Homo sapiens: one gene and its partners. The protein of the gene in region 1 interacts with the protein of each later gene in a pairwise test. Each region holds a gene or a part of one and is shown on either strand. Other genes may lie near its edges.

What was found.
Region 2: the proteins of HSD17B7 (region 1) and CA1 interact in a two-hybrid assay, tested with the Homo sapiens proteins (one large-scale study listed by BioGRID and IntAct).
Region 3: the proteins of HSD17B7 (region 1) and GPAT4 interact in a two-hybrid assay, tested with the Homo sapiens proteins (one large-scale study listed by BioGRID and IntAct).
Region 4: the proteins of HSD17B7 (region 1) and BRSK1 interact in a two-hybrid assay, tested with the Homo sapiens proteins (one large-scale study listed by BioGRID and IntAct).

The regions. Positions count from the first base shown.
Region 1 is NC_000001.11:162,792,854-162,798,742, forward strand, and holds part of HSD17B7 (3-keto-steroid reductase/17-beta-hydroxysteroid dehydrogenase 7), read left to right. Parts: coding exon 1-9; intron 10-3,731; coding exon 3,732-3,824; intron 3,825-4,948; coding exon 4,949-5,063; coding exon of another isoform or gene 5,064-5,084; exon of another isoform or gene 5,085-5,289; intron 5,290-5,889. UniProt on the Homo sapiens protein: Bifunctional enzyme involved in steroid-hormone metabolism and cholesterol biosynthesis. Catalyzes the NADP(H)-dependent reduction of estrogens and androgens and regulates the biological potency of these steroids.
Region 2 is NC_000008.11:85,373,913-85,380,241, forward strand, and holds the start of CA1 (carbonic anhydrase 1), read right to left. Parts: upstream 4,202-6,329; 5' UTR 4,134-4,201; intron 1-4,133. UniProt on the Homo sapiens protein: Catalyzes the reversible hydration of carbon dioxide. Can hydrate cyanamide to urea.
Region 3 is NC_000008.11:41,583,365-41,589,253, reverse strand, and holds part of GPAT4 (glycerol-3-phosphate acyltransferase 4 isoform 1 precursor), read right to left. Parts: intron 4,477-5,889; exon of another isoform or gene 4,337-4,476; intron 1-4,336. UniProt on the Homo sapiens protein: Converts glycerol-3-phosphate to 1-acyl-sn-glycerol-3-phosphate (lysophosphatidic acid or LPA) by incorporating an acyl moiety at the sn-1 position of the glycerol backbone. Active against both saturated and unsaturated long-chain fatty acyl-CoAs.
Region 4 is NC_000019.10:55,309,011-55,313,932, forward strand, and holds the end of BRSK1 (serine/threonine-protein kinase BRSK1), read left to right. Parts: intron 1-433; exon of another isoform or gene 434-1,214; coding exon of another isoform or gene 1,215-1,285; intron 1,286-2,900; coding exon 2,901-3,058; 3' UTR 3,059-3,552; downstream 3,553-4,922. Other genes in the region: modulator of macroautophagy TMEM150B, read right to left, coding at 3,849-4,045. UniProt on the Homo sapiens protein: Serine/threonine-protein kinase that plays a key role in polarization of neurons and centrosome duplication. Phosphorylates CDC25B, CDC25C, MAPT/TAU, RIMS1, TUBG1, TUBG2 and WEE1.

The DNA of each region.
Region 1 (5,889 bases):
TAAGCAAAGGTATATCTCTTGCTGATGGATTTTTTTTCTCATGTGATTGTGCAGCATAACACTTAATAAAATAAGAGAGGAAAGAAAAACCTGAAAAGAAACAGGTGCGGTGTAAGCAGTTATGTTGAGGAAGTCTGTATAGGGTGACCCATTGTGTCTCAGTACCACGTTTTCTTTCTTTTTTTTTTTTTTTTTAAAGAGATGGAGTCTTGCTCTGTTGCCCAGGCTGGAGTGCAATGGCGTGATCTCGGCTCACTTCAACCTCCACCTCCTGGGTTCCAAGTGATTCTCCTGCCTCCACCTCCTGAGTAGCTGGGATTACAGACATGCGCCACCATGCCTGGTTAATTTTTGTATTTTTAGTAGAGACGGGGTTTTACCATGTTGGTCAGGCTGGTTTCGAACCCCTGACCTCGTGATCCACCCGCCTCGGCCTCCCAAAGTGCTGGGATTACAGGCGTGAGCCATTGCGCCTGGCCAGTACCACATTTTCAGTCTCAATCATGATCATAATTATTTCATGGAGACTAATTTATGAGTACATCCTGATGTGTGATCAGTTGGTACTGGGATTACAGGCGTGAGCCATTGCGCCCAGCCAGTACCACATTTTCAGTCTCAGTCATGATCATAATTATTTCATGGAGACTAAGTTATGAGTACATCCTGATATGTGATCGATCAGTTGGTGCTGGGATTACAGGTGTGAACCATTGCACTTGGCCAGTACCACATTTTCAATCTCAATCATGATCATAATTATTTCATGGAGACTAATTTGTAAGTACATCCTGATGTGTGATCAGTTGCACTGCCTTACGTTAAGGTAACTCCTTTGACATTTGAATTCATTTTTTACATCTTTCTTCACATAATGAATTCATTAAGTAGATAAGGCAAGTAGTGAGTGACATTTAACAAGTGAAGAAACTGAGACACAGAAATAAGGGTAATATGCCTGGGAAGGTCATCCAATCTTATATTAGTTGGGTGGGTCCAAGACCCCAGGGCTTCTCCCTGCTTCCTAAGGGGTATTTTTTTTCCCTAGGCCAGTAAAGATTTGTTCACACCTTCACAGTAATTGGCATGTAATAGACATTTGATCAATAGTTGGTATATGAAGGAATAGAGTCCTCAGATGTATAACTCCCCTGAAAGTGAACACAAAATTGCATGTAGGTGCACAATGCATTTTTCTGAGCAGAGAGGGCTTTTTATTTATTTATTTGTTTTTAAATTGTAAGAGGAATTTATGATGAAAAAAGTCCAAGAACCCTGCACTAGTCTATGCTGCCCTAGGGCTATCTGGAATAATTAATTTTCAAATATTGAGGCACTTAAGAGACAAAGAACTACCTTGTTTCCTTGGACAGTAGAATGAAATGGGTAGAAACAAGGAAGGCTTTCTTGATGAAGATGTTTGCTGAATAAAAATACTTCACATTTTATGTGAATTGATAATCATTTGCATTTGCCTGTTCCAAATGCACAAGTTACAAAGTGAAAGCTAGTTTTCTTCACTCCAGCTCTTCTCAGTGTGGCCTTAGTCCTTTGTAAATGTGGTTTCTCTCTCCAGTACTGCTGAGCTATTAGAGTTTTCTACCGCATCTTAAAGAAAAAAAAACAAAAAACCTGAGATTTTCTAGGTTCTGTTTTCACATAAATTTTGATATATTCCATATCCCCTACTCCTCCATAACTTAAGCATCTCCAGGGCTGTGAAACTGTATACTGAATGTCCTTATGGAGATAAAAACCATGAAGTTGAGAGAAGTTATGAGTTTTAAATCATGTTTACAGGCATTCTTTTCCCAAACTTTCTTAGCCAGCTGGCTTCTTACCTGCTTTGTTTAGATTTTGTTATATTTTCTTATTTGGAAGAAAAGAACCTTCATTTCCCAGTTAATAATATCCCATTCCGATGCAGTTTACTTTTGAGACCCAAAGTTTTAACATTTATAGTACTGACTATTCCCAAATGCCTTCAAAGGTTCAAGATATTCGGTACTTTATCGCGAGTTCAGTAATTTAGTATTTCGTAAGATATTTAGCAACTTAGCACAGATTCAAGGCAGTGAGGCTGTGGGGCAGAAGGGAGCACTTCAGGTGATAAGTGAGTTGTCCCAGGTACCTGTCATCAGCATTTTAGTGAAGTTTTGAGGTATTTAGTCCGCAAAACAGCCTTTTTTTTGAGATGGTTGGTGTCAATTCAAGTTTAGGAAATGAATGGTTATAGTGATATTCACAAGTTTGGAATATATGAAAGTGTCCAGATAGATTCTTACTTATGTCAAGAAACTACACCCAGTGGCTCAAATGGATCTCTTCAGTTCTAAGTCTGAAATAAACTAGAGCTAAAGAGAGCTTGAGAATCCCTTCTAATGGCTCAAGTAGCACCATCCCTGACACCTGGTCTTTCCATCTGTAGCATTCTCTTCTATTAGATAGTGCAGATGAAAACTAGTAAGAAATAGTGATGCTGTTTTATCCATATTAGAGCAATGTATCAATTATTTTATTGATGAGTGGTATGTCATTTTACTGAAGCCAGAGCTTAATTTGATGTCTTTACTAAACATTTCCTCTCCGTTCCTAGCCAAATATGTTAATATTCATAGATAAAAGTTGGCAAATAAGGTAATAGAACAAGCAACAATGGATGAACTCACACTATCTTTGTGGCACTTACATGATGAACTGATGGTAATAATATCAGCATTTTAAATGGTCAATTTAATAATTTGAGTCATTTGTCAATTATTTATAGGATGATCAAGAAATGGTTGTATGTGATCTGTGTTGAAGACCATGTATGTATTTCAGGGTCCTAAGTTTAGAAGCTATGACTCTTAATATCTTGGGTTATTCAGAGACAGTTTGGTACATAGAACTCTAGGAGATATTCTGAATATTTATGGTGTCTGTGAGTATCATGAGAGCAGGCTTTACCTGCCTTGAACCTAGTTCAAAATGAGTACATTTAAACCTATGTAAGTCTTAGATGAAGAGTCTTAGATGAAGACTTACATAGGTTTAAAACTGAAAATGCTTTTTCAACTCAGCATTTCATATCCCTTCCGTGACAAGTATTCAGGGGGGAGCCCAACAAGATTACCTTACCCCCATTTATCTTTTATAATCTCAGTGTATTCTTACGAACTTTCATCATTTTAGGATACATAGGACTTGTCCATGAACACTGAAAGGTTTCCACATGGATCTTCTGTTTTATTATATATTTTGGCATTCAGATTTCAGCATTAATAGATCAGGTCAGGTGAATATCAATAGTATATAAATTTTACTTGTCAACCAGAGGAGATGTGGATTTTTTTTTTAAAGCAAGACACTTTGTAAGACGAGGAGAGTGGGTTTAAGAGATAGAGGGTTGCTGCAATTCCTTATTGAGAGGACAGAGCTGGAAGGAATTATTGATCAGAGGTTTTACTTAAAGCCCACGATGACTCCACAGATTCTGTTTGAAGCCACTACCAAAGAAAGAATTCTCAAATGTTTACTGTAGCTAAAGAAAAACTGTTGAGAAAGAAATGCTGTAACTCTAATGTGCTATAAATTCTTCTGAACTTGCTGTGGCTAATATATTAATTTAAAAAGTATTTTTTGTCTTTCTTAGGCCTCCTTGATTCTAGTCACTCTAGAGATAGAATACACAATCTTGTCCTGATGTTTTTACTTGCAACTCACAATCTTGTTTGGTGGTTTACTTGCAGGTTTCAGAGATTAGACTGTATATATCTAAATGCTGGGATCATGCCTAATCCACAACTAAATATCAAAGCACTTTTCTTTGGCCTCTTTTCAAGGTAATTTTCGTTTTATGGATGAACTGATTGGAAGGAATGTGTTCATTTTTCTGCCTAGTTTTGATGGCATGTTAAGTTGGGGGGATGAAAGGTAAGGGGTTGTTGAAAAGGTTGAAGACAGAAAAAGGAGATGTCGCAACCATATCATGAAAGAAAAGCAATCCTCTTTTGTGGGGAGTGCTGAAAGTCCCGTTTTTTATGGTATTCTAAGTCTCCAGGACATTCTAAATGGTTTAGAAGGTCATTTTTTGGTCTGCCTGGATATGCCTATTAGCAAGAACATTTTGAAATTAGGCAGAGTTCTCAGAGAGTCTCCAATTTCCAGGAAAGTTACTTTGAACTGTTTCCCAGCTGTATGTCAGGTGCTCTGACCAGTAGGTTGGGGAAATGCAGACAACTAATGTTTCCTGGGAGATTCTCGTTACTCATTAGTGTAGTGGCTTTCAAAAATGTTGAAACACAACCAGGAGAATTCTTATTTATAGGAATAGATCTTACTTTGTGACCCAATACACTTATTCATAAATAGGCATTCTTACTATGTGCTGCTTACTATACCAATGCTTTTGCTTTACTTCTTTTCCATTAAAAGACAGACACACACACACACTCTCACACTCTCTCTGTCTCTCTCTCCCCGCATTGATTTTGACCTACTAAATTGACCTCCCAGCAGAACACTATATTAATACGTTTGAAGTATTCCCAGTTAAAAAAACAATCTGTTTAACTCTTTTTTTTGACAGTTAAACATACTTTGTGCACAGGAAAACTTTTTTTCCCTTTGGCATAGCTTATTATTCCTTTAGAACAGTTTACCTGTAACCTGATTGGGAAAGAGGTGAAGAGAATTTTAGCAGCAGGTTTTTGAGAGACTCAAGTTCCTATTGGTAGCGTGAGCTATAAGTATGTAAGTATTTCTGTGAATTAGTGGGGGGAAGGAGGGTCTTTGGCATTTCATTTAATACAATAACCCAGTCTGAGAAATAGGTATTTTTATTCCTGTCATTATAGAATCAAGGGAGGTGTAGTTTATGGGTCGGGGGGATGGGTTGGAAAGTGTTTTCAGTATTTCCAGTTAAAGAAGCTTTAAAAAGTCATGCAATTATCTTCTGCTGTTTCAGAAAAGTGATTCATATGTTCTCCACAGCTGAAGGCCTGCTGACCCAGGGTGATAAGATCACTGCTGATGGACTTCAGGAGGTGTTTGAGACCAATGTCTTTGGCCATTTTATCCTGGTAAAGAAGCTGTGGGCTTAATAAGCTAATATTTCGTGTGATAGTTTCTGTAAAGCTCTGGGCACAGGGCATTATTATAGTTGAGCAGCCAGTTAACTGATTTAATCTCATGTTTGAGTTTTCTTGATTGCATTTGCCTTGTTTATTGTGAGCATGGAATACTTCTGGAAGCTTTCCTAGTAGATTTTTCTTTAATAAATGTACTAATAGTTTTTGATTTACAGAATTACTGCAAAGATAGTACAGAGACTTTCTGTATGCCCTACACCCAGTTTCCCCATTATTAACATTTCGCATTGGTATGATGCATTTGTCAAAATAGATGAATCAATTCTGCTACATTATTATTAACTAAAGTACACACTTTATTCAGGTTCTGTTTTTGCCTAATGTCTTTTTTCAGTTCTAGGATCCCATTCAAGATACTACATTACATTTAGCAGTCATGTCTCCTTAGGCTCTTCTTGGTTGTGACAGCTTCTCAGACTTTCCTTGTTTTTGATGACCTTGACAGTTTTGAGGAGTACTGCTTAGGTGTTTTGTAGACTCTCTCAATCGGGATTTGTCTGATGTTTTTCTCATGGTGAGACTGAAGAATGTGGTTTTTGGGAGGAAGGCCACAGAGGTAAAGTGACATTCTCATGACATCATATCAAGGGTGTATGCTATCAGTATGACTTCTCAGTGTTGATATTAACCTTGATCACCTGGCTTGAGGTCATGTTTGTCAGGTTTTTCCATTGTTAAGTTACTTTTTCTTTCTCCCTTTTCATACTCTACTTTTTGAAAGAAAGTTGGGCCGGGCACGGTGGCTCCTGCCTCTAAT
Region 2 (6,329 bases), on another chromosome or scaffold:
GCCAGAGCTCGGGGGAGGAAGGAGTGGGGAGTTATTGTTTAATGAATATGGAGTTTCAGTTTGGAAAGATGAAAAAGTTCTGGAGATGATGCGCGATGGGGGTTGCACAGCAACGTCAATGTACTTAATGCCACAGACCTGTATACCTTAAAATGTTTAAAGTAGTAAATTTAATTTTACCACAAAAAGAATACAAAATTAATAATAAAATTAGTGACAAAAGTGAATATCTATTTAGAACAAGAAAATGATTTATAATAAATCAAATATTTTACAAAGTTAAATATCAAAAATATCACAAAATCTAAAAAACAATATTTCATATTCAGCCACTGCCAGACACAATCCTCTAAGAGCTTTTATCTATATTTTAATTTCATAATTCTGGATTATCTCTTCATATAGCAAAAATTTTATATTATTTTCTGTAGAGAGAATAGAAAGATATTTCAGTCTTATTTCAAGCATGGTTGATTAAAATTTTTGTTTGTTCTTATTAATACTGGGATTCATAAAACTTCACACACATTTGAAGTACTGCTATAGGTTTGTGTCTTAATACACAGGATTCTTTAATTTTGTACTATTTTCATCAAAAAAATTTTGTAACATATGATGTGGTTTTAATCGTACGTAAGACATTATCAGATACATTCCTGAGAGAACCTGTCTTAACTAGGTTTTCTGGTCAAATTCTAAAACCAAATTCTCTGCCTGCAGCTTTACACACTGGATGATTGAAATTATTTTCCCTCGATTAGCTCTGTCTCTGTGCATTTCACCATCTGTTTCTCTTCAATAACCTACAAATTTCTGAACCTGGGAGCCATTAGGAAGCACACTTTCACTTTTCAATATGACTTCTGGCCCTGCATATTTGTTTTGGCATAGTGGATGCTACCCTGAATGGCTAGCAATAAATTATCAATATACAGAAATGACTGATACCCACATAAATATGACCCACTAAAGCCAAACTAAAATTATTCTCAACTCAACTTTCCCCATTTGGGTCTCAAAAATGCCCACAGCCCCTCCAATACCACCTGATACAGGAAATATGATGCCGTACAGTCAGAGTAAAATGATAATGGGGTTGACTGATTGTGGTTAAATATCTTTTGCAAATTTTATATAAAACATATGATTGTGTGAACACATTTCTTGTGCCCTTCTGGGATCTTGGAAGTAAATCAAGCAATGAATGGTCTTACAGCTTAAGCATCATTATTTTTACAATATTGCCACCTCTGCCTAAGTCTGTCTCACTCCAACATTTTTGCTTCTCTCCACTGTGCTATTCCACCTTAGATAATTGTAAAACATTAGGACAAGGGCAATGAGAGAAACCTAATTAGACAGGAAGGACACACTAAAGAAAGACACATGAAACAGCCTGGAAAGAAGGCTTCGGAGGGAAGAACTCACCTATCGCATGCTGGCCTGTCCTGGCATTGCACTGTTTTATTTTATGTATTTTGTTACCACTTTCAGAAAATTAACAGCACAGCTCTGCCCAACTAGCACATCTAATGCCATGTGCCACCCACCCGCCCTACACTGACCAGTGGTGCCATAAAATACCTGTTTTTTTCCTTTTCTTTTGAAAAAAAAAAAAGATTAGAACAAATAGAAAGATTAGAACAAATGTTGGCATGATAGAAACAAGGAATAAAATAGGCAGAAACATCCCAAGGGAAGATCTACATGCTCTAAATGAGTTTGTGTCTCTTGGAGAGGAATAAAATCCAGAGCACGGAGAAAGTTCAGATAAGATGGATGAACCTCAAAATAACTCGAGGTGCAGTGAAGACTCAGGCAGAACAACTGTATCCTGGCACATGCTATCCCAAATTTCAAAAATAGAATGGTGGATGTAGGTGAGCTATAGATCATGAGCTTGATGCAAATGTAGGTAATATTCTGAGATACAGTATTCAGTAGATAGTGTTAATCACGTAGGGAATGGTCAATAAAATGACAAAAGGATTCTTGATATTGAACTGGATATAAAACATGTAAAAAGCAAGTTGACTCCAATCAGGCAATAAAGAGATTGAATTCAGTCGAGTAGTGAATAATATCCTATAGAGGGAATTTCAACTATCAAATTACACAGTTATAAGTTATAAAAGAAGCTGGGCATGGTGGCTCATGCCTTTAATCCCAGTACTTTGGAAGGTCCAAGCTGGTGGATCGCTTGAGGTTAGGAGTTCAGGACCAGCCTGGCCAACATGGCGAAACCCCATCTCTACTAAAAATACAAAAATTGGCCGGGTGTGGTAGCGCATACTTGTAATCCCAGCTACTCGGGAGGCTGAGACACGAGAATTGCTTGAACCGGGAGGCAGAGGTTGCAGTGAGCAGAGATCATGCCACTACACTCCAGCCTGGGTGACAGAGTGAGATTCTGTCTCAAAAAAACAAAAAAGTTATAAAAGAGGTAACTTTAAAAATTGGGTAAGGGGGCCGGGCACGGTGCCTCACACCTATAATCCCAGCACTTTGGGAGGCCGAGGTAGGCGGATCATCAGAGGTCAAGAGATTGAGACAATCCTGGCCAACATGGTGAAACCCTGTCTCTACTAAAAATACAAAAATTAGACGGGCGTGGTGGCACATGCCTGTAGTCCCAGGTACTCCGGAGACTGAGGCAAGAGAATTGCTTGAACCCAGGAGGCAGAGGTTACAGTGAGCTGAGATCACACCACTGCACTCCAGCCTGGTGACAGAGAAATTGTCTCAAAAATAAATAAATAAATAAATAAATAAATAAATAAATAAATAAATAAATAAAACTAGGTAAGGGTACACATGATATACTAGACTGCATGAAACAGTGTGAATTTGGAAAGCTCTGTTACCTCAAGGAGATGCCCAGCAGATTGACTTTCGGGTCGTGTAGAGGCACCCTGGGCATGTGTGGTACCTAATTAGGTCCCTGACCCTCTCTCAAATTCTTTAACTGACACTTCAACCCTGGCCTTGATTCTCTGATACAGTATCCTCAGCCCAATCAGATCATACATCTATCTATTCTCTTTATTTGCATAAGTGGATTTACAATACTGGGAGAAGAGAGAAATAACTATAAGAATGTTGAAGTTAGTCAAATCCACAATATTAACACATTTGTATTAACTTTAGAAATTTAATTATTTAATCCTTGAGATAACCTATGAAAGATTGTTTGTTAAGTTACTTGAAGCATTTAATATAACCTGATATATTAGAAAATCAGATATATGAACCATATAATTTCAATTTTAAAGTACAAGAGCATTTTCTTCAGTCTATACACAGTGTTTGAATGTTTAAGAGAACATAACTTACTACTGCATAAATTTGGTTTATTACTTTTACTGGAATTGCTTTAATTATTAGAGCCCCCTCCCTCCTTTTATAAACTTGCAAGATGTATAAAAGATACTAATGTGTCAGGCATTTGAAATGCTTGAGAGATTCAGGTAGACTAAATTTGTAATTGATATAATATATAATATTTAAAGGAACTTAATTAACCAAGTCTATCAATTGCATTATTTGTTTAGGGGAATTAACGTCAAATTGAACATTAGTCATGGAATAATTTTAAATGGTAATTTATATTGGCTGGGCACAGTGGCTCACGCCTCTAGTCCCAGCACTTTGGGAGGCTGAGGAGGGCAGATCACCTGAGGTCAGTAGTTCGAGACCAGCCTTGCAAACATGGTGAAATCCCCTCTACTAAAAATACAGTAATTAGCCAGGTGTGGTGGCATGTGCCTGTAATCCCAGCTACTCGGGAGGCTGAGGCAGGAGAATCACTTGAACCTGGGAGGCAGAGGTTGCAGTTAGCAGAGATGGTGCCACTGCACTCCAGCCTAGGCTGCCAAGTGAGACTCTGTCTCAAAAAAAAAAAAGGTAATTTATATTATCCTTTTCAGATTTACAGATTTACAGAGATCTGCTTGATAAATATAAAAGGTTTAGAAAAACTATAAAGGTTTTTTAAGCTTTGCAGCTTTCATTCATTGAATAGTAATTAAGATGTAGGTAGGACTGTATTTTACAAGATTTAAAGATTCTTTTGGCAGTCGGATAAAACACTTCAATGCTCAGCTAGATGAAAGGCAGAAGTCTTTGTTACTTACAGCTCTGAATGAGAGAAGGCTGCCACAGAGGACCACGCAGGGGGTTGCACCTGAGGACTGGGTACCACAGGCTGGAGGGGGAATGGGCAGCTTATGTACAGCAAAAAGGGTGGGGTTAGCTAGGTTGAATAATTTTGAATAATTTGCATAATTTTGGCGGGCTTTGGGGCATGGGCGCTGTCCTTAATTGTCTGATGTCTGGCCCTGTGGTGATTAGAGTGGGTACATAGTGGCCCCAGAGTGTGAGAACCTGATAAGGGAAGTGGTTGGGGTGTGGATTTAATCAGCTGCTCAAGAGAGGAAACTGACCAGCCTCTAGCCAAGGCCTCCATACTAGGTCAAGACAGCACAATAATCAATAAAAATACCATATATGAAATATATTTAGTCACTGATTCCTTTATATCTTGATGTCGATTTTGAACTCAATTATTTGGGGTGTTTGAGTGGCCTGAATAGTAGAGGAGACTTCTACAGAATAGGGCCTAAGTTGCACTAAACAGCATAGAAAACATTTTATTATGACAATAACAAGGAAGAAACCAAGTAGAAATGTGACAAGTCCCTGAAGGCTGACTCGTAACCAGGCTCCCATTTGTTTGGCGTTGGCCAGGAGAATACATCAGTCATGGCAAGGGCCTTTAGTCATATTTTGACTGGATTTCAGAGTGTGTTAAATATGTAAGGCATGTTTTTTTAGGGTGATGGTTTTCTGATCCAGGCTTTCTGTTAGAATGACCTCTTGATTGGTGGTGTTAACCCACCTACAACAAGAAGCTCTAATAATGTTACAAACACCTCTTTGACTAGTTAATATATAATCAAGGACAAATTTACTGTCAAAAAACATTTTTGCCAAAGCTCCCTGGTTTAGCAGGACTAATATTTGCTGTAACTTAGAAATATGATATACTAGAGTTTTGGACATTTGTAGGGTAGCATCAATTATTTTTGACTGTTGGGCTAAAGCAATGGTCCTTGTGGCCATCGCAGCAAGTCCCAGAGCAGTGGTGAGTCCCAGTATTATAGGTACAAATGTGGCACATCAATGACATTTGGCTGGGTAGGGAAAGAATAATTAACATTTATATAAATAGGAATGCCAAGAGAGGCCAGAATGCATCTCGTGGCTTCCAGTTTCAGAGTAATGGAAGGGCAAAGGAGAGGGGATAAACACCCTTGTTGGTTGGGACACAATATAGTTTTGTGGCATTACCATTAGACTGGAAAATTGTACCTTGATTTAGGTAAAGGGAAATTACTAAAGAATGGGACTGGAGGAAGACAGTGGCTTTTGTTGGGCATATGGTGAGAATATGCAGTTGTTCATTGGGTAGCCCATCTGTGGTATGTATTGAGGAAATACGAGTGCAGTTGCCACTTGCCATGAGGGGGCACCCCAATACAGAAGAAAAGGCCGTTTGGAAGTGGTTTTCATTTCTCAGTATTTTTCATCTCTGGGGCAATTATCAGTTGGGTAAATGTGTGATGTGGGATATGTGGAAGCAGGGTGATGAGTTATGGATAGTCAGTGCAGAAGAGCCTACTTCAGTCAAATGTGTTTGTATTTTGGATGTCTGTATAAATATCAGAGAAGCTGGGGCAGTGGGTTTGAATTTTACTTACGTAGTCTTTTAGAGGGCAAGAGGAGAAGATGCTGTTAGGACGGAAAAGATAGGGGTGGGAGTAGGGATACTGACAATGAGAAAGGGAAGGCGAGGAGGATGGAAGGGAATAAATGGTTTGACAGTCGGAGACCAGCAGATGCTCCTTTTACTCCTAGGAGAGCACACAGGGTGGAATACTTCAGTCAGGTTACCCTTTAGGCAGGAGAAGTGGGTGGGATTAGCAGGAACCTGAATCTTAGAAGCATTAGGGAGGTATTGGACTTGGTCTCATAAGGGCTAAGCCAGGTATAGAGTGGAATTACAATCACAGAGAGCAGAACTTCGAGTTTTATAGGTGTCTGTAAAGTCTGGAAAGTTACTCCAGTGTTGTGGGTCTTGCTTTTTTAAAACAGAAGTCAGCAGTGTAACCAGCTACTGGAAAACCAAGAGCCTCTGGTCTCCTATGAATGGCAAGACATTCCATGTGCTAGTGTAGTTGGCACTGCCCATAGTTGGTTGGGAGGCAGGGGGCATGTCATCTTTAATGGCATGGTCTTGAGCTAGGGCAGTGTCGGACTAGGGTATCCTT
Region 3 (5,889 bases), on another chromosome or scaffold:
ATTCTTAGAAGTAGAGGAAAGAGCAAGCCAACTGAGTTTATCAAATCGGTAGTGTTTGGAAACTGAAAAATCATTAAAGCCAGAGGTAACTGGTGGCTTAAGGTCCCCTTAATACAGACTTTGATGTCTAGAAATATCAAAACTGTTCACATCAGAACTCAATCAAACCACAATTTCTAGATAACCGTTCTTTTACGAGAGGCTATCACTTTGCCTCAAGTAAATATAAGCATGACCCCTTAAGAATGTGAGCTGGGGAAGCCATTCATTCAGAGGAATATTCACTTATTCCCTCAACGTCCACAGATGGGTTCCAACCAAACTCACCCAGAATCATCAGGGCCAACGTTCCCCCACAGGCCAAACATTCCAGAGAATCAGCTAGTTCTGAGTCTTTTAGGAAGGAAGCTGCCTCCATTCCAGGAAGGCAACAGAGCCCATCACTAAGCTAACCTAACTCTTCAACCCATGGAATGGCAAATCTGGGCCTTTAGGCTCCCTAATGGCCTCAGTTCTTGGAGTGACTAGTTCATTCATTCAACAAATACTCACTGGGCACACAGTGTGTGCCAGACAGTACATCAGGTGTTAGCTGTTGTTCAGCGGTGAAAAGATATGCCCATCCGGAAACAAGCACACAAAAAGTTGTAATTTCAAACTATGATGACTGTTGACAAGGAAAATACACTCTTGGAAAAGAAAACAAAACAGAAGGAAAGGAAAAGGAAAAGAAAAGAAGAGAAAAGAGAGAAGAGAGAAAAGGAAAGGGAAAAGGAAAAGGAAAAGAAAAAAGAACAGAACAGAACAGAACTTAATTTAAATCAAGGCATCTATACCAATTCTCTCCCAATCACAAGGTATTGGACTGGGACTATTATCACTCCTAAATGCAGAATCAAATACTTTTCAGTCGGCTCTCTGTGACACATCCCAACTCAGGGACCATAACTGCTAGAATATGTGCAGACAGAGGCCCTGTGCCAACTCAAAAGGTAAAAGAAAGGCCACTTTATTAATACATGCTTAGATCACAAAAGAATGCACGTATTTTTAGAGCACACCAAGCACAATGCCTGTCACATGTTAGATCTCAATGAATGGTATATATTATCATTTCATTAGAATCAGAAGAAACTCAGTCTTCAGTCCTAGGTACCAAACTTCAAAAAGGCTTAGAAAGGAAAGCATTATAACGTATGACACAAAATCCACAGGCCAAAAAACACAACTTGCCTAGCAAGCAGGAAGTGTTCAATAAAAAGGTTAGTCGTAAAATGGAGAAATTCGAATTGAAACTACAGTGAGATGGCAAAGAAATTCTGATAAACCACTGCACTGGTGAGAATGGAAAAACATCCTCAAATACTGCTGGTTGGAGTGTAAAAAGGGTTCAACCTCTACAAAGAACAATTTAGCGACTGTCATCAAAATTTTAAATGTATGTAACCTTAGATCCAGCAATTCCACTTCTAGAAATGTATCCTAAGGATAAATCGGACCAGTGGTTCCCAACCAAGGGTGATTTTTTTACCCCCTTGGGGAGCATCTGGCAATATCTACAGGGATTTTTGGCTGTCACGACTTGGGATGGGAGTGCTACTACTGGCATCTAGTGCAGTGCGCAGGGCAGAGATGATGCTGCACATCTTACAATGCACAGGACAGCTCCCACACAATGAGGAACTGTCCAGCCCCAAATGTCAGTAGTGCAGAAGTGTATAAACCCTGTATTTTAAAGCATGAGCAAAGTGATAATATGTGCTGGGATACTGACTGCGGCATTGTCTGTAATATCAAAACAAACATCAACGTCTCCCAATAGAGGATATAATGGAATACTATTCATCTAAGCCCCTGTCACTAGGAAGGAGAAGGGGAATTTGAATGTATTTCCCAAGAAGTAATGACATTATACTAATGAGGTTTTCAACTACCACTTTTGCCTAAAGGTGTTTATATGCCTCTGAAATGGCTGGAGCATGCTTTCTCATTCAGAAAGTTCACATGGCCTGACAGGGAGGCAAACATGGCCACAGCCAGTGTCTGCAGAGCATACTGGGGGCAAATGAGACTCTCCAGAAAACAGGAACATAAATGCTTAAGGCTTCAAAATGGCACTCTGTGTAAATGCATTAGTAAAAACTGAGACTCTCACAGTAATTCTGAATCAGGACAGTTGGTATCCATGCACAGATGGCAGGGGCATGAGCCACGTGGGCCCTCAGAGACCCAGCCAGAACCATCCCCTGGCCACTAAAGGCTGCACTGGTTCTCCACCCAGGATGCTTATTTGCATCTCTGGGCCTCAGCCCAGATGAAATAAATTAGAATCTCTGCAGGTACAATCTGGATTTGTTCTTAACACACTCGAGCGATTCTGATGTGGAGCCAGTTGAGACTACTGGGTTAAGGGTTCTTACCAGTTAACTGAGAAAGGACAACTGAAACTGAGAAGACAACCATCTCTGAGCACAAATTATCCATACGTAAAAGGCATCTAGTTCTCTAAAAAAAGGAGGGGGATCACATTCATAAGAGAGGTGGTGAGGCTCTAGAACGACATCCCAGGGCATGAAAGCTGGTGGAAGCCCTTCAGTACTGGAGAGCACTCAGGTCAGACCGGGCTGGCTGTCACCTAGAAAAAGCGGATTTGCTTGGGACACATGAAGCAAGGGAACTGGTGCTATGGTTGGCAGGTATGGGGTGCAAATTCTAGCTCAATACTAAGAATCCAACCCTCACACTTTGGTGGTGGGAATGTAAGACAGTGCAGCTCGGAGAATGGTTAAACAAAGTTACCATGTACCTCGCAATTCTACTCCTAAGTACATACCCAAGAGAAAGACAAACTGTCTACACCAAAAAAATTGCACATGAATGCTTACAATGGCATTATTCAGAACAGCCAAAAGACGGAAACAACCAAAATGTCCATCAACTGATGACTGGATAAACAAAATGTGGTGTATCCATACAATGGAACCTTTGGCCATAAAAATGAAGAAATGATACACGCTATAACATGGATGAATCTTCAAAACATCATACTAAGTGAATGAAACCCATTGAAAAGACCACATATTGATTCCACTTATACAAAATAGGCAAATCTACACAGACAGAAAGTAGATTGTTGGTTACTTTAGAGCTGGCGAGAGTGGGGAGATACAAGAGTGATAGCTAAAACGTTTCTTTCTGAGGTGACAAAAATGTTCTAAAACTGACTCTGTTGATGACTATACACATCTGTGAACATACTTTCATTAGGTGAATTGTATCTCAATAAAGCTATTTTTAAAAGAATCTAAGATTAAGTTGTTCAAAAAGAATAGGCTGCATAGGGAGACCTTCACCTACAACTGCATTCTGCAGAGTGGCAGATACATTATGGTGATTAGACTGGATGTCTTTTAAAAATCCTTCCTGAAACAAGTTTTTTGTCCTTACGTCTTTATTTAAAATTGCAGAATGTCAGGGAAGCAGTAAAGCATGATGGCCAAACATACAGGGAATCAGACAAGCTACATTCAAAACCAGCCTCCCCTACCTTCTGGCTGTCTGACCTCAAAAAAGTCACATTCCATGCTTCAGTTTTCTCATCTGTAAATTGGGAATAATACATATCCTGTGGTATTGTTGTCAAGACTGAACATGATGCCTATCAAGCTATCAGTGTAGTGCTTGGCACAAAATCCTCTATAAATAGAAGCTTCTACTACTAATCATCACCATAAAGCTGGAGGCAATAATAATAAAATGATGACAAACCACAACTTTAGTAGTTAATCTTTCAGAATTCTAGCCCAATGTCTTCATTTTATGGCTCAAATAACCGAGCCTCGGAAGGGTTTGATGATGGGGACAAGTTACGGAATGGCTGGTAACAGAGGCAGGACTAACACGCCCATCTGATGTCCAGTCGAGTGCACTTCTTGCTTCCCAGGCTGACTCCTCACTTGCTTTAGGGTGGATTACAATTCAGAAAAAAGCATCCATTTCTCCTAGTTTACTGTCAGAACATACATAGGCCCACCAAATGCCCCAACTGTAATGTAAACAAACACGCACACACAGGCATGAGGAAATGTGTGCTACGCTGAATTTAACGTCGAGTGTATCGGGACTGGTAGAGTGTAAGAAATTTGCTTGAATAGGAAGCTGTTGCTTAGTGGGGAAACTGCATGTTTCCAAACAGGGCAGCTCTCAGAGCGACTCAGTTGACATGAACCTGAAGTGCTAAAAACCCAGAACACACATAGCTGGCATCAATCCTGGATAAAATAAATTACCCAAGACAAAGCCAGGATCCAACTGGCCAAAGGATGATTCAACTCACAGAGAAGACAGAACATGGTCAGGTTCGGGGCCTTGGTCTTATCTAAGATCATTATGCCCTCCAGAACTTTCTTGAGTTAGAACTGGATAAGTAACACGGCACTGGTACCAAGTTCACCCCAAAGCAACGGAACCATCTCTTGAAGCTGGCAAAACAAAAAACAGAAAACAAAACCAAAAAAAAGAGGCTATTTTGATGATGACAATTTGATTTGCTGGAGCTTTAAGACCCAAGACAATTCATTATTCGACCTGAACACTGCTCTGATGGCTCAATTTCAATACCAGTTCTTGAAATCTGAGTACTGCATATGTAATTAGAAGCAACTTCCTGGCCTTTTTCTTGTTCAAAAAATCTTTTTATCCAATTTACTTCACTCAGCATAATTATACTGAGAACCATCCATGTTGCTGCATGTGTCAACAGTTTATTCCTCTTGATTGCTGAGCTGTATTCCAGTATATGGATATACCCGTTTCTTCATCCATTCCCCTACTGATGGACACTAAGGTTGTTCCAGTTTGAGGCTATTACAAATAAAACTGCTATCTACAAGTCTTTGTATGGACATATACTTCATTTCTCTTGGGTAAATACCTAGGAGTGGAATGACAAATTCCAAAATGGGTTGTACCATTTTGTATTCCCACTAGCAGCGTAGGGAAGTCTCACTTGTTCCACATCTTCACCAATACAGTCTTTTAAATTTACACACATCACTGGCCAGGCGCAGTGGCTCACACCTGTAATTTCAGCATTCTGGGAGGCCGAGGTGGGCGGATCACTTGAGGACAGGAGTTCAACAACAGCCTGGACAACAAGGAGAGACCCCATTTCTACTAAAAATACACAAATTAGCTGGGCGTGGTGGTGCATTCCTGTAATCCCAGCTATTTGGGAGGCTTAGGTGGGAGGATCACCTGAGTCCAGTCGGCTGAGGCTGCAGTGAGCCATGACAGTGCCACTGCACTCCAGCCTGAGCAACAGAGCAAGACCCTGTCTTAAAAAATGAAACCTTTTCATCACAAGCGCACAAATTCGTGACAGCAGACTTTTTTGTTCATCTCTCTGCAAATTCAAAATACTTCTAATTGTGCAAAGAAAATCACTAAAACATGAAAGAAAAAACCAATGACCACAACCACAAACTCTAACCTCAGACCTGAACATTACTAAGCAAAATAAAACATTCCTTCATCTTTATGTTCCACTGACAGTGATTCTCTGCAGTCCAACAGAGCAGCCACTAACCACGTGTGACCTTGGAGCACTTAAAATGTGTTGTGAATGTAAAATGCACACTGGAGTTCAATGACTTAGCATGAAAAAAATGCATGTAAAATATCCCATTAATAATTTTTATATTGATTATGTTTCAAAGTAATATTCTGGATAAACTAGGTTAAATAAAATATATTGTTAAAATTATTTTCACCTGTTTCTACTTTATACAATTTTTTTAAAAAAATTTAAATTGACTTTCAAATCAAAGTCAATATATAGGAGCTAAAAATGATCTCATAGACAGTAGAATATAATAGATACCAGCAGCT
Region 4 (4,922 bases), on another chromosome or scaffold:
GGACTGGCTCCCAGGAGTCCCTAAGAAGATGACAGGCTCTGTGTTGGGGGTCAGGGAACATCCTGCCAACAGAGGTTCTGGACCTCTGTCCAGGAGGACGGTGACCCACCGTCCTGGTTTGCTTGGGACTGAAGGGTGTTTCTGGGATGCAGGGCTTTGAGTCTAAACCCAGGACAAATTGGTCACCATCTTTGCAGGTCTCACAAGTCACCTCACCCTGGGGCTAGGGCCTAATGGTCCCTAGCAACCAGAATTCTAAGCTGAGTTCATGGGAATGTGCAAGATCTTGCTCTGGGGAATCCGGCCTTCCCGGGCTCCCAGTCCTGGTCATCAAAGACTCAAATTCTCTAGCAATCAGGAGAGCAGAGGGTTTGTTGCAAAGGTGTCTTAGTTCGTTCAGGCTACTATAAGAAAATACCATACACTGGGCAACTTACAAATAACAGAAATTTATTGCTGACAATTCTGGAGGCTGGGAAGTCCAAGATCAAGCTGCCAGCAGCGTTGGTGCCTGGTGAGAGCTGCTTCCTGGGTCACAGACAGCACGTTGGTGCTGTGTCTTCACATGGCAGAAGGGGCAAGGGAACTCTCTGGGGCCTCTTTCCTAAGGACACTAATCCCATTCATGAAGGCCCCACCCTCATGACCTCATCACCTCCTAACATAACCTCCTAATACCATCACCTTGGGATTGGGTTTCAGCACATGAATTTGGGAGGATGCAGTGTTCAGTAGAGAGCATAAGGGGCACTCGCCCAAGCAACCAGAGGTAGCCAGAATTCTCAAGGGAAGAGAGCGCCTGCCCTGGAAATCAGCCCTCATTCCTGAGACACGGGGTCACAGGGGACACAGTGAAACAGGGTACTGGGCCCCATTGCAGGGCACGTGGACAGCCGTCTGCTCTGAGGGGAGTCAGGCAGCATCAGCCTCACAGGACCCATGCCCCTTCCTGGACCCCTGGACCCCGTTGAAAGGAAACGGCCCAGCGTTGAGGCCAGGAGCCAGGGCAGCTTTGGCCTTGTCACCAGAAACTCTGAGTCCCAGGGTCAGGTCTTTTGCTCTGGAGCCGTGGTTCTCAACTAGGGGAGCTGGTTTCACCCCGTGTTTGTTTTCTATGGCCGCCGTCAACAAATGACACAGCCTTGGTGGCTGAAACAACACAAGTGATTTTCGTACAGTCCTGGAGGTCAGAAGTCCCACATGGTCTCTGCAGGCTAACAGGGTGCCTGGAGGGCTGCACCTGGAGGCTCTCTGGCAGAGACTGTTTCCTTGTGTGTTCCAGTTCCTAGGCGCTCTGGTTAAGGCCCGTTCCTCCATCTTCAAAGCCAGTGACGCCATATATCCCTCTGACTGACCTTAGCTGGGAAAAGGTGACTCAGTGGGACCTGCACAGATACTCCAAGATAATCCCCCAACTCGTGGTCCCTCACCTTCCCCACAGCACAGGATCTCTTCTGCTGCATCAAGAAACATAGTCACAAGTTCTCGGTATTTGCATGTGGACATCTTTGGAGGGGGCCGTTATTCAGCCTAGCCCAACCCCCTAGGGACATTTAGTAATGTCTGGAGACATTTTTCCTCCCCTCAACTGGGGAAAACAGGGGGATGCCAATGGCCTCTTGTAGGTGGAGGCCAGGGATGCTGTAAAACACCCTACAATTCACAGAACAGCCCCCCACGACAGCTGGGTCCCAAATGGCAGTCGTGCTGAGGTGCAGAAACCCTCTTTTCTCATGGTTGCTAGGGGCAACCGGAAAGCAAATTAGGTCCACTGGACCCCGTTGCCGAGGAAAGCTGGCCTCAGCAACCAGGGGTCTCAAAACGGGCACACCCTGGAAGATGTAGGACTAACAGGCACCCTGGGGGGCTCAGCCACCATCTCATAAAGGAGAATGGGGTGGGGGGTGCAGGCCTCCGAGTCACCGTGGTTGCTATGACAAGCCCCCCAGTTTTTGTTTTTGTTTTTTTGAGACAGAATCTCCCTCTGTCGCTCAGGCTGGAGTGCAGTGGCGCGATCTCAGCTCACTGCAACTTCCACCTCCCGGGTTTCAAATGATTCTCCCGCCTCAGCCTGTCGAGTAGCTGGGATTACAGGTGCGTGCCACCACACCCGGCTAATTTTTGTATTTTTAGTAGAGACGGGGTTTCACCATGTTGGCCAGGCTGGTCTCAAACTCCTGACCTCAAGTGATCTGCCTGCCTCAGCCTCCCAAAATGCTGGGATTACAGGCATGAGCCACTGCGCCCGGCCCACTCAGTTTCTCTTAAAAGAAAAACGAGGTCTCCGCCACGGGACCTCAGGTAACATCCTAGGCCCCATGGAAATTGCTGGAGACCACCCAGCAACCAGTGTTTCCACCTCAGTCCCCAAGAGGAGGTGGCCTCAGGACCCAGGAGACAGTGACCTGAGTCAGGCTGGCCCAGCATGAGGGGCCTGAGACCCCCCCGACTCCACCAGTAGGCTCCCTTGAGCCCAGTTCCATGGAACATTTCTCCCTAACAACCAGGGTAGGAGAGAGTCGGGGGGCCCCTCTTGCTGTGAACGTTGAGCACCGTCCTGGCAGGCTGTTTCCTAGCGAACAGTATCATAACCAGAATCTGAGAGTCTCCTAAAGTCAGGCCCGGCCCAGGCCCCCTTGGACTAACCTGGCCCCAGGGTTGCAGGGGGCATAGGGTGCAGCCCCCGTCCTAGGGGAGTCAGGCCTTGCCACTTGGGGTGTGTCCTCCGAGTAACCAATTCAAGGCCAGGTGCTGGACGGACTGGGCCTTATCAGGGATTGGAGCTAGAGCCTCGGGGTTACTGAGACCGACTGATGAGGAGACTCTGCCCCCATCCCCTGGTAATGGGAACCCCAACCCTGGGCTGCGGAACCCACGAAAAACCTCTTCCTCCCTTGCAGACGAGAAGAACGGGGCCCAGACCCGGCCTGCTGGTGCCCCACCCCGAAGCCTGCAGCCCCCACCCGGCCGCCCAGACCCAGAGCTGAGCAGCTCTCCCCGCCGAGGCCCCCCCAAGGACAAGAAGCTCCTGGCCACCAACGGGACCCCTCTGCCCTGACCCCACGGGGCCGGGGAGGGAGGGGACCCCCCTCCACCCCCCTTCCGTGCCCCCCAACTGTGAATCTGTAAATAAGGCCCAAGGAACATGTCGGGAGGGGGGTGGACACAAAAACCGGCCTTGCCCTGCAGGGATGGGGCTCCACAGGCCGTGCCCAACTGGGGGTGGTTCTAGGGGAACAGGGGGCGGGGGAGCTGTTTCTATTTTATTTATTGATTAATTTATTATTTTATTTATTGATCAATCTCTCTGCGGGGTGGGGTGGGGGAGGGACGGGAGCTGGTTGGGGTGGCTTAGCAGATCCGGACAGGGCCCTCTGTCCCTGTGTCGTCCCCAACCCCCTCTTCCCGGGCCCCTCCTCCCCTGGTCCTCCCCCCACGACCTTCTGTACGGATTTGCTCTCCGGAAGGAATTCTGGTTTCGCGTGATCCTGCCTGCGTCCGTGTCTCTGATTCCGCCGGCGGCAAAAAAAAAAAAAAAAAAAAAAAAAAAAAGATAATAATAATAAATAGCCTTGATCAGGGACAGCTGGCTGGCCTTGGCCTCTCGATTCCTGGGTGCCCAGTTGCAGGGGCAGGGCCCGAAGGCGGGGACGGGGATGCTGGCTGCCACCAGCTGTTCAGAGGCCCTCCGCGCCGGCACACAGGTCCTCCGGCTCCAGGTCAGTCAGCGGCAGCCCCAGCTGGTTGGAGAGATCTCCAGTGGCTCATCTTGCTGGGTGCGGGGCACTGGGATTGGCCCCATCTTTCCTGCTTCACTGGTGAGGGCAAGGCCCGGGTCAGGGTGCCTGCTACAGCTGGACCGGCAGGGAGATGGGGGAGGCCGGCGGGGGGCTGAGGCTGGGCCACGGCTGAACACACAGGGTGCAGCTCTCCAGGGCGGAGAAGTCAACGGCTAAGAGACCGAAGAGCGCGAACAGCAGCATGGCCACGACCCACTCGCAGGCCGCAGAGACGCTACGCAGCGAGCAGGCGTGGAGGACGATCACTGCCCCAGGGTCAAGGGCCACACTGCTACCGTGACAGACGCGGAGCCCGGCCTGGTCTCTGTGCCGCCTCGCGCTGGGCGGAGGCCGTCTCTGGGTGTCCCCATCCTCAGCTCTCCCCTTCCCCCGTAGCTCCTCACAGACGGGGCCTCGCCTTGGTCTCCGATGCTCTCCAGCCGGTCTCCATCTCAAGCTGCTTGCACATGCTTTCCTTTGCGTGCACCCCCGTTACTATTGCAATCCTAATATCCTGAAATGTTTCTGTCTCCCTTCCCTGACCCAGGGAAGGGCCTGGTTGCCTCCCTACTTGTCCAGGACATCCAGCTGCCATTGCTCCTGCCTGTAAACATGCATGGTTTCCTAAATACGCCTCCCTCCCTGCCGCCAGCCTCGGACTGTGTTTTGCAACTTTCTCCTGAACATCCACCCCGCTACCCATGGCCTACAGGCCCTTCCTGCTCACTCCCAGAGCCTAATCTCTTCCCTGTAAAATCTGTTTCTCTGAGTGTCCCCTCCTCCACGACAACTCCACCATCCACTCATGTGCCCCAGCAGACACTCCCCCGGCCCTCTCTTCATCCTTCTTGGCCAGCTGGTCACCCCAAGTCTTGTCCTATCTGCCTTACCCATCTCTCTCCAGCCCTCTCCTCATGTCTTGTGCCTTTCTCTCCTGGTCTGTCCCGTCCCTCCTCTGGTTCTCGCACCCTGCTAGCTCCTTAAGACCTTTTTCTGCTCTGCCAGCCCCTGCAGACTCCAGGCCTAGTAGAGACAGCATTTGTTTTCTGGAACTTCTCTCACTGGAGCTGCTCACCACTTCACCCCTCCCAGACAGCTTATTCCATTCATTCAGGGATTTCTAAGGGGGCTGAGAAGTGGTGG